2 separate regions of the Homo sapiens genome follow, and region 2 is linked to region 1. The links come from fine-mapping of genetic effects on gene expression. A gene starts in region 1. The other region holds a variant in brackets. All regions are shown on one strand. Distances are between the middles of the regions. Region 1 holds the start of TFDP2 (transcription factor Dp-2). Region 2 overlaps TFDP2 (transcription factor Dp-2).

Region 1 (2,748 bases):
AATCTGATAGTGATAAAGTTTAGCTAAATAACAGGCTAAACAATGAAATGGAAAAGGAAGCTGCAATATAGATCAATTAAACTATTTTTATATCTACTTTTAAAGAGAGACAGGGACATGATTATGCCATATAGAAAATAGATGAATATATATTCACGAGCTGAAAAAAAAAACAGGTAAATTATTTATTAGGTGAAGATAAATTCAAGCCATGAAGAGAAAACACATGGCCCAGAAAAAAAAAAAAGTAGGTTGTGCAAGTCAAATGAAAAGACACAAAACTCAGATCTCGGGGAGACAGGGGAAGGAGAAGGCTGAGCTAAAAGAGAGCCTTACTGAAAGAAAGCAAATAAGTGAGAGGGAGTCTGTGCCCTCTGAGATGGAATGAGGAAAAGATAAAAGTATTCATGGGCTCAAAGGCAGCTTCAGCAGTGAATATGGAAAAGGAATGAGCCCGTTCACTGTCTCAACACTAAAAGGGAAATAATATAGGGTCTTTTTCTAAACCAGCATCCATGGCAGTCAATAATAAAAGTGCCTAACTAATGCAAGGCATTTAATACGTGGAGGATTTTCTTACGATTGCATTCCATACATTAGTCCATTCACTCCCCGAAACACACCGAATAGGTGGATGCATCTAATTTACAGATGAAGAAACCGAGATCACACAATGGGAGATAGCACAGGCTGGTAAGAGAGACTGGGGCGCTCATCCACTTCGTTGTACTGTCTCTCAGCGAGATCCTAGGAAAACCCTTACACTTCTTTGTGAAGACAGACCTTGGCTTTCCAGATTTTCTCAAAGGAGTCTGGGCCCAAAAAGCGATCCTCTACTTCAGAGAAAAGTTCCTTTATGGGGCATATGAGGTTCTTCCAAGCACACAAAGCTTAGAAACTCTTTAAAAACAAACAAAACACCTGGTGGACACAGAGGCCTGTGAGTCATGAAAGGAGAAGGGAAAAATCGGAAAACCAGATTTAGAAGCCATCCTTCTTTGAAGAGAACGAGAAAGTAGAAAGCAGCCCTTCCCCTCTTCCACGAGGCGTGACTCAGGGACGTTACCTCCCCCGATTTGCTCTATGCACTAAGAGGGTGACCCTCCTCTGCTTTCGACTCTGGCCCAGACACTCACGGGTTACCCGGCCAGGCCTGGAGAACCCAGGTCTAAACAGATGGGACTCGTGGGGGAACAAGGGGGCCCCTGTGCGCAGGGAGGGAAACCTACCCAGGAACGCGCCCGGCCGGGTCCAAAGGCCCTCCGCGCGCGGGCCCGCGCCCTCGCCCCAGACCTTACCGCCTTCGGCTGCAGAAGAACTGGCGGCCAAGCGAGGCTGTCGGGCCGAGCCAGGAGCGCGTCTTCGGGCGCCGCCGCTTCTGTGGCGCCCGCGCTTAGGCGGCGGCCGGGTCCCGGTGGACTCACACCCGGGGAGACGCGGCCTGCCCGGTCAAGGCCCAGGAGTTTGAGGCCCCAGAACGCCAACCGTGCGCGCGCCCTCGAGCCTGCCCAAAGATGAAGGGTCAGGGCGCGCCCCGCGGGCCGGGCAGCTGCGGCAGCGCCGCAGCCGAGATCGCTACCGATTTCGTCCGCCCTCTCCCTGCCCAGCTACAGCCCCGCTTCCCCCGCGCGAGCTTTGGCGGCGGAGCAGCACAGTGCGCGCCGATTGGCCCTCAGAATGTGCGACGCCTGGCGCCGCTCCCCACGGATTGGCCGGGCCGGCAGTGCGTGCACGGAGTAAACAAACCCCGCCCCCAGGCTTCCCTTTGAGAGTAGGGGGCCAACAGATGGAGGGGCGGGACTCGTGCACTCAGCCACCGCCCCTTGGTTCCCCCTGTGGCCTCCCTGGGAGCCCTCCGCAGGACCCGACCACCCCGCTTCCCCGCCGCCTCCAGGGACAGCTGCGGGCCTGAGGCCTAGAATTTTAGACACACTTCCTTCATCACTCCTATCTCATCCCCCCTACTCCCACCCTGCGACTTGGGTGGGAATCTCTTTTCCAACTGACCCCGAAGCCAGAAAACCCCAGCTCTCTTGGAAGGAGGGGGACTGGGGCAGTTCCATTCGGTCCCCAGGCCTTTGCGGGGTCGCCCTGGGGGAGCATCAATAAGGGACAGGGGGGCGAGTGATCGTGATTGAGGCTATGCGTGGGGCCAACTGTGGGACACCTTGAAATTATTCAGACAATGAGTTAGAGACCACTGGGAATGTGGAGGTTCTTCAATATCAAGGCAAGTTAATACCCAAACCAGGACAGGTCATTCTGTCCCGCGGAAACTGCACACACCCCAAATACCCGTACACTTGGTTCCATATGAAAAGATTTTGTTCATTCGTTCGTGCCGAAGTTAAAAACCCCGTGTGAACAGCGCATTAAAACGATTAGATCTTTCTCATTTTACTCCAGTCAAATCTTATAGATCTTCTATATGCCACTTTGTTTGTTTTTGAGACGGGGTCTTGCTCTCACCGAGGCTGGAGTGCGGTGGCAGGATCACGGCTCATTGGAGCCCTGACTTCCCAGTCTCAGGTGATCCTACCACCACAGCCTCCCGAGTAGCTGGGACTACAGGCCCGCGCCACCACACCCGGCTGTTTCGCCATGTTTCCCAGGCTGGTTTGGAACTCCTGGACTCAAGAGATCCTCCCGCCTGGGCCTCCCAAAGTGGTGGGATTACAGGCGTGAGCCACCACGCCCGGCCCCAAACACTATTCTTGATATGGGGAGACATCAGTGGACAAAATAGAG
Region 2 (2,748 bases), 67 kb before region 1:
AAAACAGTCTTAAAACATTCAAAAAATTGAAATATTATGAAGCATCTTCTCTGACCACAATGGAATAAAACTAGACATCAATAACAAGAGGAATTCTAGAAACTGTACAAAGATATGGAAACTGAACAATATGCTACCAGTTGACCAGAGGGTCAAAAAAGAAATTAGAAAGAAATTTAAAATGTACTTGAAACAAATGATAAAAGAAACACAACACACCAAAACCTATGGGATATAGTGAAAGAAGCACTAAGAGGGAAGTTGATGGTATAAGTGCTTATACATCAAAAAAGTGAAAAAACTTCAAATAGATAACCTAATGATGCATCTTAAAGAGCTAGAAAAGCAAGAGCAAACCAAACCTAAAATTTGTAGAAGAAAAGAAAGAATAAGGATCAGAGCAGAAATAAAACAAATTGAAACACAGGAAACAATGCAAAAGATCAATGAAACAAAAAGTTGGTTTTCTGAAAAGATAATATTGACAAACCTTTAGTCAGACTAAGAAAAAAAGAGAGAAGACCCAAATAAATAAAATCAGAGACAAAAAAGGAGACATTAAAATTGATACCACGGAAATTCATTAGTGGCTACTAGGAGCAACATGGCTACTATATGCCAATAAATTGGAAAACCTAGAAGAAATGGATAAATTCCCAGACACATACAACCTACCAACACTGAACCATAAAGTAATCCAAAACCTGAACAGACCAATAACAAGTAACAAGATTGAAGCAGTAATAAAAAGGCTTTCAGTAAAGAAAAGCCCAGCACCTGACAACTTCACTGCTAAATCTTACCAAATATTTAAAGAAGAACTGATATCCATCTTACTCAAACTATTCCAAAAAGTACAGCAGGGGTCCCAAACCCCTGGGCCACAGACTGGTACTGGTCCGTGGCCTGTTAGAAACCAGGATGCACTGCAGGAGGTGAGTGGCGGGCGAGTGAAAGCAGCTTCATCTGTATTTACAGATGCTCCCCACTGCTTGCATTACCACCTGACCTCCACCTCTGTCAGATTAGCCACGACATTAGAGTCTCACAGGAGTGCAAACCCTGTTGTGAACTGTGCATGTGAGGGATCTAAGTTGTGTGCTCCTTGTGAGAATCTCATGCCTGATGATGATCTGTCACTGACTCCCGTCACCCCAAGATGGGACCACCTAGTTGCAGGAAAACAAGCTCAGGGCTCCCACTGATTCTACATTATGGTGAGTTGTATAATTACTTCATTATATATCACAATGTAATAATATTAGAAATAAGGTGCACAACAAATGTAATACACTTGAATCATTCTGTAAACCATACCACCCCTCACCCCAGTCCATGGAAAAATTGTATTCCACAAAACCAATCCCTGGGGCCAAAAAGGTTGGGGACCATTGAAATGGAGGAGAGATGAATACTTCCAAATTCATTCTACAAGGCTTGTATCACCCAGATGCCAAAACCAGACAAAGAAACATCAAAAAAAGAAAACTACAGGCAAATATCCCTGATGTACACTGATGCAAAAACCCTCAACAAAATACTACTAAAC[C/T]GTATTCAACAACACATTAAAAAGATCATTGATCATGACCAAGTGGGATGTATCCCAGAGATGCAAAATGGCTCAATGAATGCAAGTCAATCAATGTAATATATCATTTCAATGAAATGAAAGACAAAAACAATATAATCATTTCAACTGATGCTGAAAAAGCATTTGATAAAATTCAACATCGCTTCATGATACAATCCCTAAAAAACTGGGTACAGAAGGAACGTACCTCAACATAATAAAAGGCATACATGACAGACCCACAGCTAGTAAAATACAGGATAGGAAAAAGTGAAAGCCTTTCCTATAAGATCTGGAACACAACAAGGAAGCCTACTTTCAACACTGTTATTCAGTATAGTACTGGAAGTCCTAGCTACAACATTCAGACAAGAGATAAAAATAAAGGGCCATTCAAATTAGAAAGGAAGAAGTCAAATTATCCCTGTTTGCAGATAATATATTACATTTTGAAAAATCTAGATTCCACAAAAAAACTATTAGAATTGCTAAGCAAATTCAGTAAAGTTGCAGGACACAAATCAACATACAAAAATCAGTAGCTTTCTAATGGCAACAGTGAACAATCTGAAAAAGTAATTAAAAGTAATCCCATTTATAGTAGATACAAATGAAATTAAATACCTAGGAATTAGTCAAAGAAATGAAAGATCCCTACAATAAAAACTATAAAATACTGATGAAAGAAATTAAAGAGGACACAAAAAATGGAAAGGTATTCCATATTCATAGACTAGAAGAATCAGTATTGTTAAAATGTCCACAGTACCCAAGGCAATCTTTAGATTCAATGCAATCCTATCAAAATACCAATGACATTCTTCACAGAAATAGAAAAAACAATCCTAAAATTTATATAGAGCCACAATAGACCCAGAATAGCCAAAGCTATCCTGAGCAAAAAGAACAAAACTGAAGGAATCACATTACCTGACTTCAAATTACACTACAGAGCTATAGTAAACAAAATGGCATGATACTGGCAAAAAAACAGACACATAGACCAATGGAACAGAATAGAGAACCCAGAAATAAATCCATACACCTAGAGTGAACTCATTTTCCACAAAGGTGCCAACAACATACACTGGAGAACAGACAGTTTCTTCAATAAACAGTGCTGGGAAAACTGGATATCCGTATGCAAAAGAATGAAACTAGACCCCTATCTCTCACCA

Evidence for each region. PIP is the estimated chance that this variant, and not a neighbour inherited with it, causes the effect.
Region 2: its variant is the best candidate, but not a certain one, in a credible set for the expression of TFDP2 in whole blood (TOPMed, PIP 0.55).

What each region holds. Positions count from the first base shown.
Region 1 is chr3:142,147,885-142,150,632 of GRCh38, forward strand. It overlaps TFDP2 (transcription factor Dp-2), which reads right to left and starts at 1,660. Exons shown (of 13, transcript NM_001178139.2): 1 at 1,299-1,660. RefSeq lists silencers at 1,156-1,205, 1,436-1,505, 1,566-1,775, 1,886-1,935 and an enhancer at 1,305-1,805.
Region 2 is chr3:142,081,090-142,083,837 of GRCh38, forward strand. The region is part of intron 3 of TFDP2 (transcription factor Dp-2); the gene reads right to left. Among named protein-coding and RNA genes, the nearest start is that of TFDP2, 67 kb to the right of the region's middle. The variant C/T (reference allele first, on the strand shown) is at 1,550.